3 linked regions of the Homo sapiens genome follow. The protein of the gene in region 1 interacts with the protein of each later gene in a pairwise test. Each region holds a gene or a part of one and is shown on either strand. Other genes may lie near its edges. The genes, in order: NINL, KAT7 and L3MBTL4.

The links.
Region 2: the proteins of NINL (region 1) and KAT7 interact in a two-hybrid assay, tested with the Homo sapiens proteins (2 studies listed by BioGRID and IntAct).
Region 3: the proteins of NINL (region 1) and L3MBTL4 interact in binary tests that used the Homo sapiens proteins (3 or more experiments, as listed by UniProt).

What each region holds. Positions count from the first base shown.
Region 1 is NC_000020.11:25,575,423-25,582,576, forward strand, and holds part of NINL (ninein-like protein), read right to left. Parts: intron 1-7,154. UniProt on the Homo sapiens protein: Involved in the microtubule organization in interphase cells. Overexpression induces the fragmentation of the Golgi, and causes lysosomes to disperse toward the cell periphery; it also interferes with mitotic spindle assembly.
Region 2 is NC_000017.11:49,783,944-49,791,680, forward strand, and holds the start of KAT7 (histone acetyltransferase KAT7), read left to right. Parts: upstream 1-4,737; 5' UTR 4,738-4,891; coding exon 4,892-4,906; intron 4,907-5,119; exon of another isoform or gene 5,120-5,167; intron 5,168-7,737. UniProt on the Homo sapiens protein: Catalytic subunit of histone acetyltransferase HBO1 complexes, which specifically mediate acetylation of histone H3 at 'Lys-14' (H3K14ac), thereby regulating various processes, such as gene transcription, protein ubiquitination, immune regulation, stem cell pluripotent and self-renewal maintenance and embryonic development.
Region 3 is NC_000018.10:6,411,873-6,419,938, reverse strand, and holds the start of L3MBTL4 (lethal(3)malignant brain tumor-like protein 4), read left to right. Parts: upstream 1-5,027; 5' UTR 5,028-5,138; exon of another isoform or gene 5,139-5,231; intron 5,232-5,322; exon of another isoform or gene 5,323-5,979; intron 5,980-8,066. UniProt on the Homo sapiens protein: Putative Polycomb group (PcG) protein. PcG proteins maintain the transcriptionally repressive state of genes, probably via a modification of chromatin, rendering it heritably changed in its expressibility.

The sequences.
Region 1 (7,154 bases):
GGCAACAGAGCGAGACTCCGTCTCAAAAAAAAAAAAAAAAAAAGAATAGGCCAGGTGTGGTGGCTTGCGCCTGTAATCCCAGCACTTTGGGAGGGCAAGGTGGATGGATCATGAGGTCAGGAATTCGAGACCAGCTCGGCCAACATGGTGAAACCCCGTCTCTACTAAAAAGTAAAAAATTAGCTGGGCATGGTGGCGTGGGCCTGTAATCCCAGTTACTCAGGAGGCTGAGGCAGGAGAATTGTTGGAACCCAGGAGGCAAAGGTTGCAGTGAGCCGAGATCGCGCCATCCAGCCTGGGCGACAGAGCAAGTACTCAGTCTCAAAAAAAACACAAAACAACAAAAAAAAAAACTTGTAAGAATAGTACAAAAAATTCTCCAATACTCCCTCACTCGGCTGGCTTCACCACCTGTTTCCACTTTTCCCCTTTACCACAACCATTTTGTCATTTTCTCTCCCTCACTTCCTCCCTCCCTCCATATCATCTATCTACCCCTGCTCCTCTCCTTCTCCATTTGAAATCGGGTATCAGACTTTGTGCCCCTGTATCCCTAAATAGTTCAAAATGTATTCACTAAGCTCAAGGAGACAGTCACAGTACAACAAACTAGGGAAATTTGACATTTATACAATCCACCATTCAGATCAAATTCTGTCCATGGTGCCAACAATGTCCTTTACAGCTATCTTTTTCACCCCAGTCCAGTTTCCAATTCAGAGACAAGCACTGTACACGGTTTTCCTGTCCCTTTAAACCAGACCATTTTCTCAGTCTCTGTTTCTGAACTTTGAAGTCTTTGGAGTAGACACAGGCAGGGCGTTATGTAGAATGTCCCAGAGTCTGTCTGGTGTCTGCACAATTAGATTCAAGGGTGGCAGGAACACCTGGGTCAGGTGTGTCCTTGGCACATCTCATGGGGGGCACAGATGTCTCATAACTGGTGACAGTAACTGCAATCGCTTGGTTAGCATGGTGACTGCAGCAGGGTAGTCACCTTTATGTGAGTTTGAATTATGAGAAGTTTATTCATTTTTATTTTATTTTACTTTTTTGAGACAAGATCTTGCTCTGTTACCCAGGCTGGAGTGCGGTGGTGCATCCCCACTCACTGTAGCCTCCACTTCCCGTGCTCAAGTGATCCTCCTACCTCAGCTTCTCAAGTAGCTTGAACCACAGGCACATGCCACTGTGCCTAGCTAATTTTTCATTTTTTTTTGGTAGAGATGGGGTTTCAGTACATTGCCCAGGTTGGTCTCGAACTCCTGAACTCAAGAGATCCTCTCACCTCAGCCTCCCAAAGTTCTGGGATTACATGCATGTGCCACCGTGCCAGCCTGAGAATTTTAAGTGGTGAAAGTCTACAATGATAAGAGTCTTACTTTATGTGCACAGTTGGAAATAATAAAAATTCAGTAAGAATTTAAAATGTATCAAGAATTGCTTCGCTTTAAAGCTGTGCAACAGTGTACACTATCAAGTACAGTTTAAAACTTTTGCCACAGAGCAAGGCCTGGCTGGTCTTGAACTATGCAGGCTGTGGACTGTGTCCACTTCAGACCTGCCCCTGCAAACATCCTGCTTGACACAGTTTCCTGAGGAACCGTACCAGAAATCAGTACAGGCCATTAATGTAGATTGTGGGGTTCCGAAATTGGGCATCCACGTTTCTGTCCCTACCCAGAGTTGGGGAAAATCTCAGCCTGTCACTTACCTTCATTTGGGGCCTTGGAGAGCAGTGACAACGTTGCCTGAAGCAGGGAGCTAACTGGCCGGGCTGCAGCCCGCCCTCTGGAGTCCCTGCTGGTCATCCCAGGACCGTGGGTACTCAGTTTTACTCACTGGTCCACATGGAGACACGCGTCCCCAAGTCTGTTCAAGGCCCTGCCGCCTCTCCTGTGTTGGAGACCTGGCACGCTACCCACTTCTGCCTGCCTGGTTTTGTCCTCCTCCCGAGCATGGCTGGAAGTCCCAAGGCCACGTGGCCGGACAGTCCAGCACATCCCTCCTCAGGTCACTTGAGTACAGGACAGGCAGAGGCCTTCCAGATACAAGGAGCTCTCCCTGGGGTTGGGACAACCTACTCAAAATCTGCACCGAGCAGACTCTCCCTGTTGATTTTTAAATAATTAATAGCTGTTTACTACATTCCTATGCCCTTGAAACGAAAACTCCAAGTTAGTGAATATTGCACTATATTGACTGATGCTGGTTCTCATGTTTAGGGTCTGACACCACCCATGACTCTAAGGGGAACCTGGAGGTCCTCTTTGTGAATAGAGCTCCTGTGAGGTCCATCCTGGCGGGGGAGCCCACCACCCCTCTTTGTGTGGGGCCAGCAGAAGCTCGGGGCTTACTACTGTCCTAGTCCCAGGAACAGACTCATTTTTCTGAAATATTTTCTTTTCTTTTCTTTTTTTTTTTTTTGAGATGGAGTTTCACTCTCGTTGCCCAGGCTGGAATGCAATGGCGCGATCTCGGCTCACTGCAATCTCCACCTCGCAGGTTCAAGAGATTCTCCTGCCTCAGCCTATGGAGTAGCTGGGATTACAGGCATGTACCACCACACCTGGCTAATTTTGTATTTTTAGTAGAGATGGGGTTTTTCCACGTTGGTCAGGCTGGTCTTGAACTCTCAACCTCAGGTGATCTGCCTGCCTCGGCCTCCCAAAGTGCTGGGATTACAGGCGTGATTTTTTTTTTTTTTAGACGGAATCTCACTCTGGCGCCCATGGAGTGCAGTAGCGCAATCTTGGCTCACTGCAACCTCCGCCTCCCAGGATCAAGCGATTCTTCCATGTCAGCCTCTGGCGTAGCTGGGATTACAGGTGTGCCCCACCACACCTGGCTAATTTTTCTATTTTTGGTAGAGACGGGGATTCACCATGTTGGTCAGGCTGGTCTCAAATTCCTGACCTCAAGTGATCTGCCCGCCTCAATCTCCCAAAGTGCTGCGATTACAGGTATAAGCCACCTCGCCCGGCCCTGAAATGTTATTTCCATGGGCGCACACACGCACACAAAGCCACAAAAAGCAAAGCACAATTCATTAAGTCCTTAATACTCTTGCTTAAAAATGGAATTTGATTAGCTGGGCGCAGTGGTTCATACCTGTAATCCCAGCACTTTGGGAGGCTGAGGCAGGTGGATCATGAGGTCAGGAGACCGAGACCATCCTGGCTAACACGGTGAAACCCCGTCTCTACTAAAAATAGAAAAAATTAGCCGGGCATGGTGGCGGGCGCATGTAGTCCCAGCTACTCAGGAGGCTGAGGCAGGAGAATGGCGTGAACCTGGGAGGTGGAGCTTGCAGTGAGCGGAGATCGCCCACTACCACTCTAGCCTGGGTGACAGAGCGAGACTCCATCTCCAAAAAAAAAAAAAAAAAAAGGAATTTGATCAAGCAGTAAAGCTCAAGCAAAATTAAATTAAATTAAATTAAATGGAGTCATGCACATGCCTGTAGTCCCAGCTACTTGGGAGGCTGAGGTGGGAGAATGCTTGAACCCAGGAGTTCAAGTCAAGCCAGGCAACACAGTGAAACCCTGTCTCTAAAACATAAATAAATAAAATAAAAATGGGACTTTGAGCTAACAGTCCTCATACTGCTTCTCAACCAGCATGTGTAGACAGGATCACATAAGTCACAGCTTTTCTCTAGCACTGAAAATACCTCATCTTCTTGTTAAGGTAAAGAAATGATATAGTCCCTCGGAGGCAGTAAGGGATGTTGGAAACCCCACTGTGTTGGGAGGCACAGCAGGGGACATGGAATTTGCAGAGCCTCTCCAGACCGGAGCACCCCTGACCTCCATGTGACCCTGAGTATGTTATTATCCTCTCTGACCCTCGCACTCTCTGTGTGTGAGATGGGGGCAACAGTACACCCCGGCTCAGCCTCCTGCTATGAGTACTCCGTGAAAGAATTTAACAAAAACACTGAGAACAGTGCCTGGCACCTACTGAATGCTCATTCAAAATTTAAAAACAAAACACCAGGAGACCTGAGCTCCATTTCTGGCAGCCACAACCAGTGCACAAGTCATGCACGGGGACTGGGCACAGGTGACACGCTACCTTATGGTGAGGCTCACACAGCCCCCACGGACCAGGCACCCAAAAGCCTGTCCTTCCTGTCCCCACACCCCCACGCCACCCTGCCTCTGGAGACAGCCGGGGGAGGCCTCCTGGTGACTGGTTCAAATGGCCCAGGACTCCACTACCCTGGCTGGGGGCACCAGCTGTCACTCCTCATTCTTCAGAGAGGCACAGAAGCCACAGAAGCCAAGCTCCCTCTCTCCATGGATGTGAGAGGCTGTGTGCAGAAGAGAAGCCACCTGCGTCCCTCAGGGCCACTTCAACAATGGAGCAGCCCATCCTGAGGTCTTCGGTGAACTCCCTGTTTATTTAAGCCAGACTGAGTTGGGTTTTCCAACACTAGTGGCTAAAATATCCTAACTGATATACTCTACAAATGTAAAATTCTTTACCAGAGGCTTAAAAACTGAGAGATTTTGAAGAGTGATTGCCCCTCAGGTCTCTGACCACTCTTAGAAACTCCAACAAACCAAAATTGTTACTTTACTCAACAAAGCAGATCCAAAAATAAGGTTATAAGAAGATGTGTGGGCTGGGCATGGTGGCTCAAGCCTGTAATCCCAGCACTTTGGGAGGCCGAGGCGGGTGGATCACCTGAGGTCAGGAGTTCGAGACCAGCGTAGACAACGTGGTGAAACCCCGTCTCTACTAAAAAATACAAAAATTAGTTGGGCGTGGAGGTGGACACCTATAATCCCAGCTACTCAGGAGGCTAAGACAGGAGAATTGCTTGAACCCAGCAGGCAGAGGTTGCCGTGAGCCAAGATTGCGCCATGGCACTCCAGCCTGGGCAACAGAGTGAGACTCCACCTAAAAAAAAAAAAAAAATGTAATGATTGCCCCTTATGAGATACAAAGTAACAATCAATGCACAAAAATTGGTATATCCTAGAGGTTCTCAAACTTGATTGCTTCAGAGGTACCTAGAGAGCTCTCCTGTTTCAGAAACTAACAAATGACTTCGACTCCAGGGAGACTATACAGCAGTCTTGAGGGAAACGGGTCACCTCGCTTGGAGGATGATGGAAGGCTCCATTATCTTTCTGAAGTCCAAGGAAAGACAATCGGGTTCAGAAAGGGAAGTACAACCAGGCAGCGCCAGATGCATGCTTGAACCTAGGTCAAAAAAGGATGAAAATACAAGCCATGCTCTAAAAGACTCCTCTGTCCCAGAAAATTGTCTGTCCATTCACAAACAACAATAATCAGAATCCAGGAGGCTCAAAGTTGCCCCAAGGTGGGAGAAGGAAAGCCTGCCTCCAAATAGCTCCAGGTAGAGTATGACCCAAACTTTTGGCCTCAGCTTGTGAGTAACCAAATGTCTTGGCCTTGGGCCTGAATTCCTAATCTGCACTTGAAGCCAAGGACTAAGCTAAACTCAAACCTAGATTCCAGTTACAGCCACCGCGGCTTAACTACTTACACAATAACCAAGGAATGGAACAGCAAAGTGGCCACAGCGCTGGAAATGCCTTCCAGGGCAGAGGACGCTATTACCTGCAGCTAGGAAGCCATGCCAGTTCAGGTGTGAGGCCAAGACACTGCTCCTGTTTTTGCTTCCTGCTTCCAAATCTGTCTTGTGCCAGGAAAGAGGAAAGCTATCTAGTAGCTACCTGCTCATGGCAAGATCCAAAAGTAGGCTGGGTGCAGTGGCTCACGCCCGCAATCCCATCATCGCTTTGGGAAGCCAAGGCAGGTGGATCATTTGAGGTCAGGAGTTTGAGACCAGCCTGGCCAACATGGCGAAACTCTGTCTCTACTAAAAATACAAAAATTAGCTGAGCGTGGTCAGGCACATATAATCCCAGCTACTCAGGAAGCTGAGACAAGAGAATCGCTTGAACCCGGGAGGCAGAGATTGCAGTGAGCCAAGATTGTGCCACTGCACTCCAACCTGGGTGACAGAGCGAGACTCCTTCTCAGTTTAAAAAAAAAAAAAATCCAAAGGTAAATGTCCACCATAGAAAGAATGTGCTCACAGAGCCCCGCTCACATGCTCTAAGTCTCAAATGCCACATGTGCCATCTTCTAAAAAACTTAAAAAGAGTCATTAGTGGTTTAAATGATGACAGATTGAATTGATCTGTATTGGCAAATAAAAGTGGGATATGTGTGTTTATGTAAAGTTCAGGTGCAATAAAAATTAGCGGATAACTCTTTTTTGTAGAATGAGAAAATAGCAAGCCTTCTCCAAGGAACTTGAACTCACTGTAAAAGGGGAAGCTACAGACACTGTTGGAACTTTGCCATTCTTGTTATTCTATTTTCCATCACCAAATGTTCAAAGGATACCCAAACATTAAAAGACTTACAACATGCTCTTAGCAAATGACCATATCAATTCACCCACCTTAGAGCAGTCCTATAAATCACAACATATGGGATAAGTATGAGTTAGCGAAAAAGTTTCCATTGAAGTTAATATAAACTGCTCAATTAAATTTTGCTCAAGTCCGGCCAGGCGTGGTGGCTCACGCCTGTAATCCCAGCACCTTGGGAGGCCGAGCGGGGTGGATCACGAGGTCAGGAGATGGAGACCATCCTGGCCAACATGGTGAAACCCCGTCTCTACTAAAATAAAAAAATTAGCTGGGCATGGTGGTGTACTCCTATAATCCCAGCTACTCAGGAGGCTGAGGCAGGGGAATCACTTGAACCTGGGAGGTGGAGGTAGCAGTGAGCCGAGATCGCGCCACTGCACTCCAGCCTGGCGACAGAGCGAGACTCCATATCAAAAACAAACAAACAAACAAACAAAAAACAAAACTTTTTGCTTAAGTCCTAACTATTCCTCTATAAAGTGCTTTCTTTCCAATTTGATGGAGTTAAATGTTATCTGAGGTCAGGTGTGGTGGCTCATACCTGTAATCCCAGCATTTTGGGAGGCTGAGGCAGGTGGATCACTTCAGCCCAGGAGTTGGAGACCACCCTGGGCAAGACTCCCGGCTCTACATTAAAAAGAAAAAATCTGAAGTCCAAGTTCCTTGGAGAAGGCTTGCTATTTTCTCATTCTACAAAAAAGAGTTATCCTCTAATTTTTATTGCACCTGAACTTT
Region 2 (7,737 bases), on another chromosome or scaffold:
CTTTCCTAGCTGAGTCAACAACTGGCAGTGGGGTGAGAAACATTCAATTTGGTGCCACCCCAATTACTAAGCCCTTTTGGGTGCCAGTCAGCAAGGGAGAAGCTGGAGATGCTGTGGCCATCCAGGCAAGGCTCCTAACCTCTGGAAGAAGCAAACAATGAACAACTACATTTTGTATTTGAAATATGGTACCTATAATTTTACTGTCAAGGAAACACTTTAAAGGACATCAAGGGATCTTTTAGGCAGCTTACAAAACTGAGGAGGCAAGAGACTGATACAAGTAAGGAAATAACACAAGCACATACACACAAAAGATTGCCCCCACTCCCAGTGCCTATTTCAGTCTCTCCTTGTCTCTGGCTAAGGCTATTTCAGCAGCCTTCTAACTGGTCTCCTGCCTTGGGTCTCCCTCCTACTCTGATCAGTGCCCTTCACAGCTGCCAGAAAGAGATTGCTAAAATGCATGTCTGACTGGCGGCCTCCTCTGCTTAAGGACTTTCAGAAATTGCCTACCACTTCCAGTTCAGTCTCCACAGAAGGGTGCTGAACACTCTGCATGAACTGGTTCCCAAAACCATGCCTCTTATGTACCCTCCCCGGCACCCATAGATAATGCTCCTCCACACCTCTCTACTATTGCACATTCTGTTTTCTTTGCATGGAAAACCCTTATATTGTCCTTGTTTACTGGCAAACATTCATCCTGTGAAATTCCACTCTTGCTTCACGTCTTTTATGAATCCTTTCCTAAACTTTCCAGATGAAACACTCTACCTCCTCCTCTGTAGCACTTCTGAACCTTGCTTATCTCCCTATTTTCCCATGTAATACTCTACAGTGTTTTGTAAGTGTGTGCTCACTGGCTTGTCTTCCCTACTGGATTCTAAGCTCCTTTAGGGGAAAGTTGGTGTTTTGTCCATGGGGTATAACTCAGTGCCTGGTACCTGGGTGATTAATGCCTGGGTAATCACTCTGTATGTCTTCAGTTAAAGTGGTTGAACAGAGGTTGAACAGAGTTAAAGAGGTTGAACAGATAAAAGCAAACAATCACTGAGACCATGTAAATATATAGTCACTAACATTAGAATGTTATAGCCATGATTAGAGTGACTGGAAATATAAATAACAATAGCCATTTATTGAGCAATTACTCCATGTCAGGAACTGTGCAAAGAGCTTTACAACACTCATCTTCTTTATTCCTTACAACCTTGTGAGGTGGCTATTAATGTCCCCACATCACAGGTGAGAAAACTGAGACACAAACAAATTTAAAACTTGTCCAAGGCCGGGCATGGCTCATGCCTGTAATCCCAGTGCTTTGGGAGGCTCAGATGGGAGGATGGCTTGAGGCCAGGAGTTCGAGACTAGTCTGGGCAATGTAGCAAGACCTCATCTCTACAAATAATTTAAAAATTAGCCAGGCATGGTGGTGTGTACCTGTAGTCCTAGCTACTCGGGAGGCTGACGTGGGAGGATCGCTTGGCCCAGGAGATCAAGGTTGCAGTGAGCTATGATTGTGCCACTGCACTCCAGACTGGGTGACAAGAGTGAGACACTGTCTCTTAAAAAACAAAAAACAAAAACAAAAACTTGTCCAAGAGTAATGCAGGTAGGAAGCAGCAGAGCGGAGATTAAAATTCAGATCTGACATCAAAGCCCTGTACTGGACACTAGTACAGCTGATGATACAATAAACATGATTTATCTATGTTTCTATTATCTGTTTGGGAAGGGAAATGAACAGAATTATCTACCAAATTGTACAAGGAAAATAACAAATCCAGCAGTTAAGTGCAAAATAACATATCATTACGCCCTACTACCTTACAAAGAATGAATTGGAAAAGATTTTCTGAAAAAATAAAATTTTATTGAGGGTTAGGAGATGCATCCAGGCAGGAAGAAAAGCCTGAGAAAATAGAAAGGCAAGGAGAACTGTCGAGAGTGTCAACGTGAAGTCTGGTGATTGAGGATAGCCAGGGGGCAACCAGTCAGAGGCATTGAAATCAACATCAGTTCCTGCTTGGAAAGCTAATTGTGTTGTGATGAACATGACTCTCAAAGTAAATATTATATTTGGTTTTTTAAAAAAAGAAGAAGAAATAAGCTTTTAAGATCCTCCCCTTCCCCATTCTAAATATACCTGGCTGGTCTACTTTCAAGTACTATACACATTTTTTTCCTTATGATCATGTTTCTATCCTACTGGTGTTAGTTTTTTCATCTTTCTGCCAGAGTGTACACTTTCCAAGGACAAGAACCATATCTAAATGAAACTGTAAACTCTTTAGTGTCAGCTGCAGTCTTAGGGAATCTAGCATAAGAAATTAACTAACGTCGAACATCTGTAATGCTGGTATTTGTGTGACGGATGCAAGTCAGGATAAGATCTTATTCTAAAACACTAATTTCCAGGGAGGATAACTTCACCATCTCTGAGCGCTATACATTCAGAGACTGTAAAACAGTAATGATATTCTTACTGAGTAGCAAGCATTTACTGTGGGAAGAACGAGGTTTGAGCACCATTGGAAAGGATGGTATGAGCCAGGCGCAGTGGCTCACACCTGTAATCCCAGCACTTTGGGAGGCTGAGGCGGGTGGATCACCTGAGGTCAGGAGTTCAAGACCAACCTGACCAACATGGAGAAACACTGTCTCTACTAAAAATACAAAAAGTAGCCACATGTGGTGGCGGGCGCCTGTAATCTCAGCTACTCGGGAGGTTGAGGCAGGAGAATCGCCTGAACCCGGGAGGCGGAGGCTGCGGTGAGCCGAGCTCGTGCCATTGCCCTCCAGCCTGGCAACAAGAGCAAAACCCTGTCTCAGAAAAAAAAAAAAAAAAAGAAAGGCTGGTATGGCTGGGAGTGGTGGCTCACACCTTAATCCCAGCACTCTGGAAGGCCGAGACAGTAGTTCAGCTCAGTAGGTCGAGACCAGCCTGGGCAGCATGGTGAAACTCTGTCTCTACAAAAAATACAAAAATTAGCCAGGTGTGGTGGCACACGCCTGCAGTCCCAGCTACTCGGGAGGCTGAGGCAAGAGAATCCCTTGAGCCCACGAGGTGGAGCTTGCAGTGAACTGACATCCAGCCATTGCACTCCAGCCTGGGCAACACAGCAAGACTCTGTCTTGAAAGAAAAAAAAAGAAGAGAGAGAAAAAAAGTAGGATGGTATGAAATAACTGAGATATGCTCTTAATGTAAGAGATCCTTACCACCAGTTGGGGAGCCAGAACATTCAAATGTAACCTCAGGAACATATCCGTGAGTGCAAAATAACAGAGTAATGTATGAAATTAAATGCTTAAGTGGTGAGGGGCTACATGAAATTAAATGCTTAAGTGGTGAGAAGTAATGTGAACCATTTTCAAATAAGTTCTTACGTGCAGTTCAACCTAAGTAGGTTATCAAAGGTATTTATACTAAGCACTAAAAGCTAAGTATTAAATACTAAAAGCTGCCTGTGTCAACACTGGCCCAGGACATCCCCAAGGAGAGTGCTGGCTAAAGGTCTGGAACTTTAAATCTTTAGAGTTCTTTACTTAGCACATCAATCAGATATTTACCTTCTGCTTCTTTGTTCTTTAGCCCTGCTCCTGGGGGAAATCTCCATCTTAACGGGGCCTCAGTTTGAAATTGGGGTTCGGGATCCTAACTTAATGACTGAGCGTGCCTGGGTTCCACCCAGTCGCAATTGGTCAAGACTTGGTCCTCTCAAGGCCTTTCCTCCGGAGAGGTTAAATCCTCAACGCCTGCTCTCCACTTTCCAGCCTTTTCTTAAGGCTCTTCTTTCAGCCTAGTATCTGTGACCAACTTCTCCTTCCTAGGCCCTCTCATTATTATTTAAATGTCCATTCTTTTGGGGGCTTCAACTTCACTAAAAACATTCCTTCCTCTTCCTCCGCCTCGTAACTCTCTGCTCAAGCATCTGGATGCCAGAGGTCATTTGAGCTAAATGGGGTTCAAAGCTTTTCTGACTCTGGTACTGCATTCCCCACTTTCAAATCACATTTTTCACCCCAGGGCCCCCAGTGGTCTCAAACCCAAACACAGTGCGGTTAGGAAGTGGGCACTCGCCACAGAGCTAAATTGGGAATTATTTGACCTGCAGCTTCTGGAGAATGGTTTTGCCTCCTCCCCGCGACATCAACTAACTCACTTGCTGTTAGCTAAGGGCAAGGACAATGTCTCCTCTACCAGACAGGAAACTTGATGGCGGACGCTATCCGTTAGTTCCTTTTTCAATTCCCCATTCCCACCCCTTCGAGACCACGATGTTTCTTAAAATACAAAGTTTCTTTTACAAAACATCCCTCCGCAACTTTGAGTTTATATAATAAACGGAAACGTCCTTTAAACAATCAGGCTACGAAGGGGTTAAATCTAATCTCAGCAACCTGATGGATTCTGGGGGGTTTCCTTCCTCGACTCTAGAAATTAAAACGAAATTTTGCCCAAGGTAAAGATGAGAACCGTTTACATCAACTGTCAGGCTTCTGCCCCAAACAAGAATGGCTACCCACGCCCACAAACAGAGCCACTCACGTAACTAAAAATGGTTGGCTCCGGGTTCCACCACTGGAGTCACTTTCTGCCCAACTTCAAAATGGCGCCCACTAGCTTCACCAAAAGGATCGAACTTCCCAGCACCCTCTCTGGCCCGTAACGTCAGGTGACGCGAGACCCAGCCGGAAGTGAAGGAAAAAGCGCTTCAGCCCGCGGCGCCTGCGCAGAACGCTCCAGACGCTGAGAGGCAGGAGGCACTAGGGATCGTCCGCAGGATTGGGACTGATACAGAGGCCGCCACGGAGCCCGCCGGAGCCACCGTTCCTGCTGCTGCCGCCGCTGCCCGAATCGGAACCGTCGGGCCGCAGCCGCCGGCAATGCCGCGAAGGAAGGTGAGAAACGGGAGAGGAGGGATGGCGGGTTTCTAAGGACAGTCGATTGAGCACCGTGACGCAGTTGGCCACGCCTCACAGTGCTTGGGTCCCAACTTTCCGCTCCCCCGAACCTTGTTCAGCTACCCTCTCTTCTGTCCATACCCAACAGAAAAATGTGGGCCCGACCCTGGCCTCGGCCTATGCTTGCAACTATTCCCGCCCTCTGCTTGCCTGGATCGGAGGCGTTCTTATTAATTGGTCGCTGAAACGTCTGGAAGCATATTGATTGGCTGGTGACGCCGCCTGTTTGGGCTCAACGGTCACCTCCCCGCGTGCGGGGGCGGTGTCTGGCCCCGGCCCCAGCGCTCTCCCACTGGCTGGAGAGAACGATCCCTCCTCTCCTGATTGGTCGAGGTTGGCAGTCTGTCCTGTGGGGGCGCGGCTTAGGCGGACCTCGATTGGGTGGCCCGAATCCCCGCCTTTCCGAGCGGGGACGCTGATAGGTGCAGAGGCGGGGTTTTGGAGGCCTCGTTACCTTCCAGGTGAGGGGCACAACAAAGCAGAAGACTGGGTGGTGGGAAGCCAGCGCCCACTCGCAGGGGATCCCTCTCAGGCCAGTTGCCTCTTTCCTTATTTGCTAGTTCGACAGCGCCTAGAAAATGCAGTTGGTAAAAACTAAAAACTTCTAGAATTAGAAGGCACTTAGAAGATCACCCAGGAATGGCCCCGTCGTTTCTTCTTACAGCTGAACTAACGGAGGCCCATGGAGTGCCGCAAGCCACTCAGGCAGTGGCAGATCCAGAATATAGAACAAATCTAACTCAATTCAACAAATGTCTATTGACTACTTTCTGCGCGGTGGTTGCTGTGGATTCAGAAATTAATTAGATGTGATCCCTGGCTTAAGGGTGTCACAGCCCGATAGGAGAAAACAGACATGAATAATCTTAGAAGGATCTAGTAAGTTCTCAGCTTGGAGGTGTATACAAGGTGTTGCTGGAAGGAAGTGAAGGAGCAGTTAAGTCTGCCCTGGAGTACAATGGGAGATATATTGGTAAAAGCCACAGAGAAGAGCTGAGTTCCAGGATCAAGCCAGGAAGGAATAAGTCTCACGTCAAGGCTTTAAATATCTCGGTAATTAGACTATAATGGTGACTTTTAAGATTCCCCCTTCATTTCAGCCGTTTTCTGTGATTCTTGCTCATTTCCTGGCAGGTTACCCTTAAGATACTTGGAAAACTGGGTGGTATTCTTGCTCATATCAATAGAAATCTTTCTCTTCACAGCGGCTTTTCAGGTTGAAAATGTACACTTTTTAATGTCTCCTAAAATGACCTCAGCTGGTGGGTGGTATGTATGTGTTTTTTTGTTTGTTTGTTTTTGAGACGAGGTTTTGCTCTTGTTGCCCAGGTCGGAGTGCGATGGCGTGATGTTGGCTCACTGCAACCTCCGCCTCCCGGGTTCAAGCGATTCTCCTGCCTCAGTCTCTCTAGTAGCTGGGATTACAGGCGGATTCCATGACGCCCAGCTAATTTTTGTATGTTTAATAGAGACGGGATTTCACCATGTTGGTCAGGGTGGTTTCGAACTCCTGACCTCAGGTGATCCACCCGCCTCGGCCTCCCAAAGTACTGGGATTACAGGCATGAGCCACCACGCCCGGCCGGTGGTATGTATGTAAAGGCTCACCAAATGCAGGAATAATATTGGTGCCTTGAAATAGGGCCACAGTCCTCTTTCTTAATTTCCCAAATACCGGGAGTTACTTGAAAATGTACATTTTTTTAGTAACCTGTTTGGCGGCAAACCTGTCTTAATCTGTCCTGAGGCTACTTATGGTTTTTGTGTGTCTCATTTAGTGTGACTGTTTATATTTTTTGCTGCAGAAATACTATTATGTTTTGTTATTGGGTGGTATTTGCAGGATACATGCAAAGTACTCCCCTTCTAAAAATCCAAAACAATTACAAATTCTAAACACAACTGGCCCTCAGGGTTTTGAATAAATAATTGGGACTTACAGTGTGAATCTTTGTATTGTTTTCAGTAAATATTTTTTCCTTTCTGGTTTTGTAAAGGGTATAGTGTTAGTGCTTAATTGATAAAAGTTATCTTTATGGCTAAGAAAGAACTCCTCAGGAGGATAATAATTGACAAATCCTTGCTCATTGAAAAGATGGTTTTGAAAACAACTGTTTTTGAATACCCATGAGTCTTCATGTGCAAGCTGCCTTTTTGGAAGATAGATGGCTTTCATGTGGAGAAACGTCAAGGATAGATGGCATACGCACTAACAATTTTCATCTTTTTCTGCTTAAATTCTTTTGGGATTAGAGTTGTGGTCCATGATATTTTGAGATAGTGTATGGTTTTTAAAAAATGTGATAGCTTTTCATGGAGACATTGAACAAAAGCTACTCTAAGTTAAATGAGGTCCAGCACCAACGATTTTCTCACTACAGTGGACCTTTTTTTGTGATATTGATCTCCAAATGGTCTTGGTTAATACTTAGTACTAATACAGTAAGAATTAATTCTCTTCATGGCCGGGTGTGGTGGCTCACGTCTGTAATCCCAGCACTTTGGGAGGCCAAGGCGGGTGGATCACCTGAGGTCAGGTGTTCAAGACCAGCCTGGCCAACATAGTGAAACCCCGTCTCTACTAAAAATACAAAAATTAGCTGGGCATGGTGGCGGGCGCCTGTAGTCCCAGCTACTCGGGAGGCTGAGGCAGGAGAATCACTTGAACCCGGGAGGCGGAGGTTGCAGTGAGCCACGATTGCGCCCTTGCACTCCAGCCTGGGCAATGAGAGCGAATGAAACGGAAGCTCTTCATTTATTTAACAAAA
Region 3 (8,066 bases), on another chromosome or scaffold:
CATACGTGTGCATGTGTCTTTATAGCAACATGATTTATAGTCCTTTGGGTATATACCCAGTAATGGGATGGCTGGGTCAAATGGTATTTCCAGTTCTAGATCCCTGAGGAATCGTCACACTGACTTCCACAATGGTTGAACTAGTTTACAGTCCCACCAACAGTGTAAAAGTGTTCCTATTTCTCCACATCCTCTCCAGCACCTGTTGTTTCCTGACTTTTTAATGATTGCCATTCTAACTGGTGTGAGATGGTATCTCATTGTGGTTTTGATTTGCATTTCTCTGATGGCCAGTGATGATGAGCATTTTTTCATGTGTTTTTTGGCTGCATAAATGTCTTCTTTTGAGAAGTGTCTGTTCATGTCCTTTGCCCACTTTTTGATGGGGTTGTTTGTTTTTTTCTTGTAAATTTGTTGGAGTTCATTGTAGATTCTGGATATTAGCCGTTTGTCAGATAAGTAGGTTGCGAAAATTTTCTCCCATTTTGTAGGTTGCCTGTTCACTCTGGTGGTAGTTTCTTTTGCTGTGCAGAAGCTCTTTAGTTTAATTAGATCCCATTTGTCAATTTTGTCTTTTGTTGCCATTGCTTTTGGTGTTTTAGACATGAAGTCCTTGCCCATGCCTATTAAACTCCACTTTTATATGTATTGGGAAACCAAAAAATTTGTGTGATTTCCTTCATGCTATATTCATTTTATTGTGGTGGTCTGGAACCAGACTGGTAATATTTCCGAGGTATGTCTGTATTATACTACCTGCTATTTTTAAGAGAATTTGTGTCTAGCTACAGTTAATGGGGGCATATTGCTATTCAAGAATTCCCATCATCAAATTTTCAGGTTTTCTTCTTCCAGATCTTTGACTTTGAGATAGCATGGTTGTACCATCAATAACTATGAAAATAGGATTAAAGAGACTGCTATTTTTCCTTCTGGAGTTTTCATGCCTTTCTTTAAATGCCATTAGCTTATTCGGTATTGGTTGTAGTGGGAAGTGAAGCTTTTTTTTTTTTTATTGACAAGAGGATTCTTATCTTGTTCAGTTTATACAGACTCTAAGCATCATCAGAAAAATTATGTCTATGTTGGATTTTTAAAAATTCAAGGAAGTAGACCTGAAGGGAGTATTTTTAAGCTACTTTTTGATAACTTTGTTCAACTAAAAGAAAGCACAAATGTACAAGTAAGTAGATTTCTATATAGATTTTAAGTCATTTGTTCAAAATCACATAATGTGCATATTATCTTATTTATAAAGCTTTATGATATCATTTATTTAAAATTGGTTTTAGACTGGGCATGGTGGCTCATGTCTGTAATCTCAATACTTTGGGAGGCCAAGGCCGGAGGGTGGCTTGAGGCCAGGATTTCAAGACCAGCCTGGGCAAAACAGTAAGACTCTATCTCTACCAAAGTAAATAAATAAATAAAATTATTTTTAATTATTCAATATAATTTACACTTCTTTCTGAACCAGTATTTACATTTAAATAGTATGCTATGCAATTATTTATACCTCGACCCACTAAAGGAAGCTTAATATTGGACCATCCATGTAGGAAAACACAACTGTAACATAGAAAATTATTAACAGTGGCATTAACATGAAAATAAACTTGATGATAATAGTTGTTGAAGATAGTGACTAATGAAATATTTTTGGTTGCTGTGGAAAATTTGCTTGTCCAAGCAAGTATAGAATTCTGTTAAGATAACTTCTCCTCAGTTATACCAAAGCATATAAAGAAATTCACTCTGTGTTAAATTCTCCCAAATGGTCATATTCAAAATATATGCTAAGAAACAATCTCAAGTCTTAAAAACATATTAAACCCCATCTCTACAAATAGTTTAAAAATTAGCCAGGCATAGTGCTGTACACCTGTGGTCCCAGCTACCCAGGAGGCTGAGGCAGGAGGATCACCTGAGCCCAGAGGTCAAGGCTGCAGTGAGCTGTGGTGGCACCAGTGCACTCCAGCCTGGGTGATAAAGCGAGACCTTGTCTCAAAAAAACACAGAAAAAACCCACACTGCTACCAAGAGCCAATCCTGCTATTGATCAAATAATAAAGCAATGTAATTTAATCCTACTTAGAAAAGAAATATAGGCCAGGCCTTGTGGCTCATGACTGTAATGCCAGCACTTTGGGAGGTTAAGCGGGGAGGATTGCTTGACCCCAGCAATTTGAGACCAGCCTAGGCAATACAGTGAGACCTCCATCGCTACAAAAAAATTTAAAAAATTAGCCAGAAGTGGTGGCACATGCCTGTGGTCCCAGCTTCTCTGGAGGCTGAGGTGGGAGGATCAGTTGAGCTTGGGAGGTGGGGGCTACAGTGAGCCATGATCATACCACTGCACTCTAGCCTGGGTGACAGAGCAAGATCCTGTCTCAAAAAAGAAAAGTAAAGAAAAGAAACATACACAACCAGCCAGAAAAATGTAAACAAGTTTAGCGAAGTTTTTAAAATGGAGAGTTCCTTGGATAAAACCAGTCACTATCTTAGCAGGTGGAAAGTTTCATTTTCATTGACAATAGATGGACACATTATAGGACTGCTGTGCCTGTTATGTTTTGATGACCTCCAGAAAGGGGTTCTCTGTATCATGCCATCAGAAATTTCTATCTTAACAATAAACCATCCTTGTCTATCTGGTCAACTTTGCATTGAGAGTTGGTTGGATTCAACTGAATTATAAAAGTAAAATGCCTAGCAACTACCAATGCTATAAACCCCTTTGCTCATGATGGATCATTAGCAAAGTTATAAAAATCAACAATATGGCTATTTCATTTTAATCTGCAGCCGTTCAGATAAAAGGGATTTACTACAACAGCTTTCAAAAATTTTGTAAGAAGTGTACTAATGCGTTCCTGCTTATATTTCCATAAAATTTGAATAACAGTGTAGTTTAAGACAGATGTCAGCTTCTCTGAACAGAATCATATGTTGTCAGCACTATGCACCTATGCACTTACATTTAAGTAGCTGTAGATGAGGTTTCCTGCCTGTTTCAACTTGTTTCATTGGTGTATCCTTTTCCTTATGTAAACCCAGCCCCTGAAAACAGTGTGTCTGCTTTCATAAACTTAAACCAAATATAGTCAATAAACATGTTATAAAAACAATTGTTTCCCCCCAAGAAGTGAAGATAAGCTGATGTAAATTCACTTTATTTGGATTTCAATCCAGCTTTCTTCTTTGATTTCATATATTATAACATCAATATTCACTTTTCTGAAGGGCTCCTGGAACCAGAAGTGCACTTAACTCTTTCTGTGCTGGGGACATTTTGATATCTCTATTACTAATACCTAGAATCTCCAATGATAAATAAATACCTCTGGGATGGACTGGGGATACACTGCAATAATTGAAGCACTTTATCCTTCACCAAAAATGGTATCCGTGTTCCTGTGAGTAGCAGGGAGGTGGAACTCTCACCTGCTGAGTCCCGTTCTAATTTCATCCAATCTGGTGAACAAGTATCCAACCAAAGGTGGTACCTGCAGGCATGCCCATTGTCACAGTAATGCAACACTGTAAGTCCTTAGCACAATGTTAAAATTGGTTGGAACTGAGTTTCAAATGTTTTCCTCTCGCTACTGAGGTCTTCTACTTCTTTCTTTTTCTCTTTGTCTCTAATATCTTTTTCTTTTTGTTTTTCTTTTTCTTCTTCTTTTTTTTTTTTTTGAGTTGGAGTTTCGCTCTGTTGCCCAGGCTGGAGTGCAGTGGTACTATCTCAGCTCACTGGAGCCTCTGCCTCCCAGGTTCAAGCGATTCTAGTGTCTCAGCCTCCCGAGTAGTTGAGATTACAGGCGCCCGCCACCACACCCAGCTAATTTCGTATTTTTAGTAGAGACAGGGTTTCACCATGTTGGCCAGGCTGGTCTCGAACTCCTGACCTCAAGTGATCCGCCCTCTTCGGCCTCCCAAAGTGCTGGGATTACAGATGTGAGCCGCCATACCTGGCTAATATATTTTTCTTAACTGACTAGAGCACAGAACACAAATCGTGTGTTTGCACTTACAAATTTCTATGATCATTGTTCCTAGTTTAAAAACTTCATTAGCAAAGGGGTTTATATTTCTCTTTTCAGTAAGGACACGAAATTATGTTTCAACAATGCCCAGTCTCACCTAAAAAGCAAGTTTTCATTCTCTGTTTATGGTAGCCCACGACAAACCAAAAAGATCATTTTGGATGGTATCATTGTTAATCCTGCTAAATGATTCAATTTCCTGCTGAAAGCAACAAACTAATACTTATTTAGTACCTACTATTTATTATTTGCATACTAGGGTTTATACACAAGGCGTCCTATGAAAGAACATTTCATTCAAAAGTCACAACATATAGTCTTCAATTATCAGCTACCTTTATTTGTAAGCCAAAATAAATGATTTAATACAGTCCTCCCAAACTGGGAGACAATGCTTTGAGAAAGGCCAAAGCTAGCCAGTAAGGCCATAAGTTCCATGAGGGCAGGATCTACCCAGCTCCTGTTTCCTGCTCAATTCCAAGCAGTTAGAACAGGGTCAGTAAACACTGCTTGCCACTTGGAAAGAGTATTCTTTTATTTGGAAATGGTATCCAGGTACTCGTGAGTAGCAAAGTCAAGAGCAGGAAAGGGGAGTGGGGGAGGTTGCAAAATCGGAGCGAGCAGCAGGACCGAGAGGGATCCGGAGGAGAGAGCCTTCAGACGGTGAACCCCAAGAGCTGGGATGAAGCATGGGTGAGCTACTGGGACTTCGCTGCCAGGGAGCAAGCTGGCAGGCAGGAAGTAGCCAAGATTTGGGGGAATCCTTCCCAGGGAACGAATACAGAGAAGGACGCATCTGAAAATTCCGCCGCAGCCACCTCCCTCCCATGGGAAAGCCCCGACCTCGGCGGGCCCAGCGCCACCCGGCTCCCCGGGGTGTGGAACACTGAGCGAGGCAGGTGCGGCGGGAGCATGCGCGCGGGGCGGGCAGGGGGCGGCTCCCGCGCCCCCACCCCGCGCGTGCACCCTCGCGCCCCTCCCGCCGGGCACCGCGGGGCAGCGGCGCCGCAGCCTGGGCTGGCGGAACCTCGCGCTCCGACTCGCCCCCCGCCTGTAGCTCGGTCGGCGTTGCGGGCAGGCGCCGCTCCGCTGGGGGTAAGAAGGACGCCGCCGCCCGCGTGGGATGGTCGCGAGCCCGCGTGGGTGCCCACGGCCGCCGCCGCGCGGGGTGGCCCCATCCCCGGGCAGGTAGAGGGGCCTGCACGACTCCCGCGGCGAGGGCCGGGCCGGTGGGGGCGGTGGCGGTTGGGGATAGCCCCGGTCCCGGCCCAGGCTCTTTCTCTTTCTCTTTCGCCGCCGGGGCGCGCGCCGGGCTCCCCGCGAGAGGCGCTGCCTCACTTGTCGCCTACTTTGGACGGGCGCGGCCGCCGCAGAGCCCGGCGCCTCGGTCAGCCGCGAGGGCAGGGTCGGGGTGCCAGGCGCGGCTACCTGGGCGCCCTGGAGCCAGCGCAGCCTGGGACCGGGGGAGCGGGACGGGACGGGACTCCTGAGGGCCCCCAGGCAGTCCTCCGGCCATCGAGCGCCCGGCGGTGGGCATTTGGCTTTTGTTTCCTCTGGGGCTAACGCCCCCGTCTGCCCGCGTGTCCCCCTCAGCCGACAAGTGTCGTGTGCCCGGACGGGCGAGCGCTGCCTCCCTCCACCCGCTTTCTGCCCTTGTCTTCCTCTGCGAGTTCTGCCCAGCCTCGGGAGCGGGAGCCCAGGGAGTGCGCGCAGGGCGGGCGGGCGCCTGGCCAGCCTGGGACGGCGGCTCTCAGGCTCCTGCCACCGCCTGGAACTGCGGGGGGCGCGCCGGCCACAGTCGCCCTCGCCTGCTCTCCGGGCCTTCTTGGGCCCGCTTGGTCCCAGGTGGACGCGAGTCGAGCTGGGCACACCTGGGCCAGCGCCGCACTTACCTGCGGGATTGGTGAGAGCGTTTTCGCGAGGTCGCAAATTCCGGGTGGGTATTGTCCCCTGCTTTTGATCTCCCTTAGTCACTGGTTAAAGTGCGAAGTGTGCTTTATCTTACATATGCCTTTAGAGGGACATTCTTAATGCGCCAATGCCCCGAGGTGGAACTAAATAAAGGGAAGGCCTGGTCATTGTTACTGTTGAGACTGCTGTACTTAACAGTCAGAGGAAGGCAGCTGGTCACCACGACCCACTCGGCCATTCCCATGCTGAAGACTCGCTCTCACTTCACACTTGTTTGGACTCCACTATGACTTGCTGGTGGCCCATCTCCTGGATCCTTCTGTTGGAGCTGTTCTAGAAGATGCTTGTGGCAGGCTCCAGTTTCAGTCCTTGGCTGAAATAAGTGTAGTGTGGCTCTTCGGTTTTCTAATCTATTCCACCTAAAAAGGTTAAGGTGACAAACAGGTGGTGGGTACAGTAGAGTTGTTTTTGGCCCTTGGTAATATTAAAAACTTGGAATGCATTCCTTATATTACTACAGAATTAGGAGAAACGGTTGAAAGAGGAGAGGTTTTTTTCTTGGAGTATCCAAAGGGATTGGATTCGACTACACTGACTTGGTGTGTAATGGTTGAGTAGGAAGGAAGATGAACATAAAACTGCTATTAATTATGCTCTTAGATGTGAGGCAACATTGAGGATGTATTGCATGTAACCCTTGACTGCAGAATCACTTAGCACTTTGCTGTACAATATTGGGGTCACAAGAAATGTTCAGCTTGGTTAACCTCTGCAGTGTGCTCTCACTCAGTTTCCAAAGAAAGGGTATTGGTGGGAAGGTGATCTGGTGAAGACAGAGGTAATGAAAGTGAAGGAACTGTGTTAACTTTCACTTTTTAAACATTTTATTTTTATTTTTTAGAGATAGGGTCTCACTCTGTCACCCAGGCTGAAGTGCAGTGGTACCATCATGGCTCACTGCAGCCTTAACCTCCTGGGCTCAAAGGATCCCGCCTCAGCCTATTGACTGGGAGGGTAGCTGTGCACCACCATGCCTGGCTAATTTTCTAATTTTTTTTTTTTTGTAGAGACGGAAACTCATTTAACTTTCACTTTAAAGAGAAGTAAGCTTGCATATTTTAAAGTTCTCATAAGAATCTTAGGTGCTCTGTAACATCTGTATAACTTCATTACAGTACCTGTGTGGTTTATATCTTAAACGACACTTCTTACTCCTTTTTGGTGGTAATAAGCCTCCTTTGCTTGGCATGGGACTTGGCACGTGGGTAAGTGCATGCTCAACAAATACTCGTAGGACCGAGTCCGTATGTGAGCAGACAACTGCTGAGCAGAGGCAGGAGGTGATAAAAGCAACAGTGAGGGAGATCAGGCTGACTCTGAAGGAAGATTTGCTGATGGAAAGCCCTCGAGTTCTTCCTATGAAGAAAAGGCCAACCTGAAAGCCACTTCCAGGAGGCTGCGTAGGAAGCACCAGCACCCAGTCTGACCAAGGAAGCAGAAGCTTCAATCCCTCCTCCCCCCATCACTCCTTCAAGTGGGTTAAGTTTTCTGTTCTCCAGAGAGCCGAAGGAGGGTCTGAAAATCGCCATTAGATAAGTGTTCATTCTTTCAGTTAATTATTATAATTAAGAAAGAATGCTGCTGCTGGTGAAGTGGGGGAGTGAGCAGGAGAGGTAGGTTTGGTGGGCTGGAGGCAGGGTGGAAAGGATAAATTCCATTTATACAACACTGGATTGAGAAAACCAAAGACTGCACGTTCTCACTTACAAGTGGGAACAAAATGATAAGCACACATGGACACATAAAGGGGAACAACATACACTGGGACCTATCGAAGGATGGGAGGAGGGAGGGGATCAGGAAGAATAACTAATGGATACTAGGCTTAATACCTGGGTGATGAAATAATCTGTACAACAAACCCCCAGGAAACAAGTTTACCTATGTAACCAACCTGCACACGTACCCTAACTGAAAAGAAAAGTTAAAACAATGCATTTATCAAATTACTCTACTAAAATATTATTTTAGTAATGCTTATATCATGTATTAATATATTATAGGAAATATATTTTGGTAAAAGCAAAATGATTTTGCGTTGTGAAAAACTAA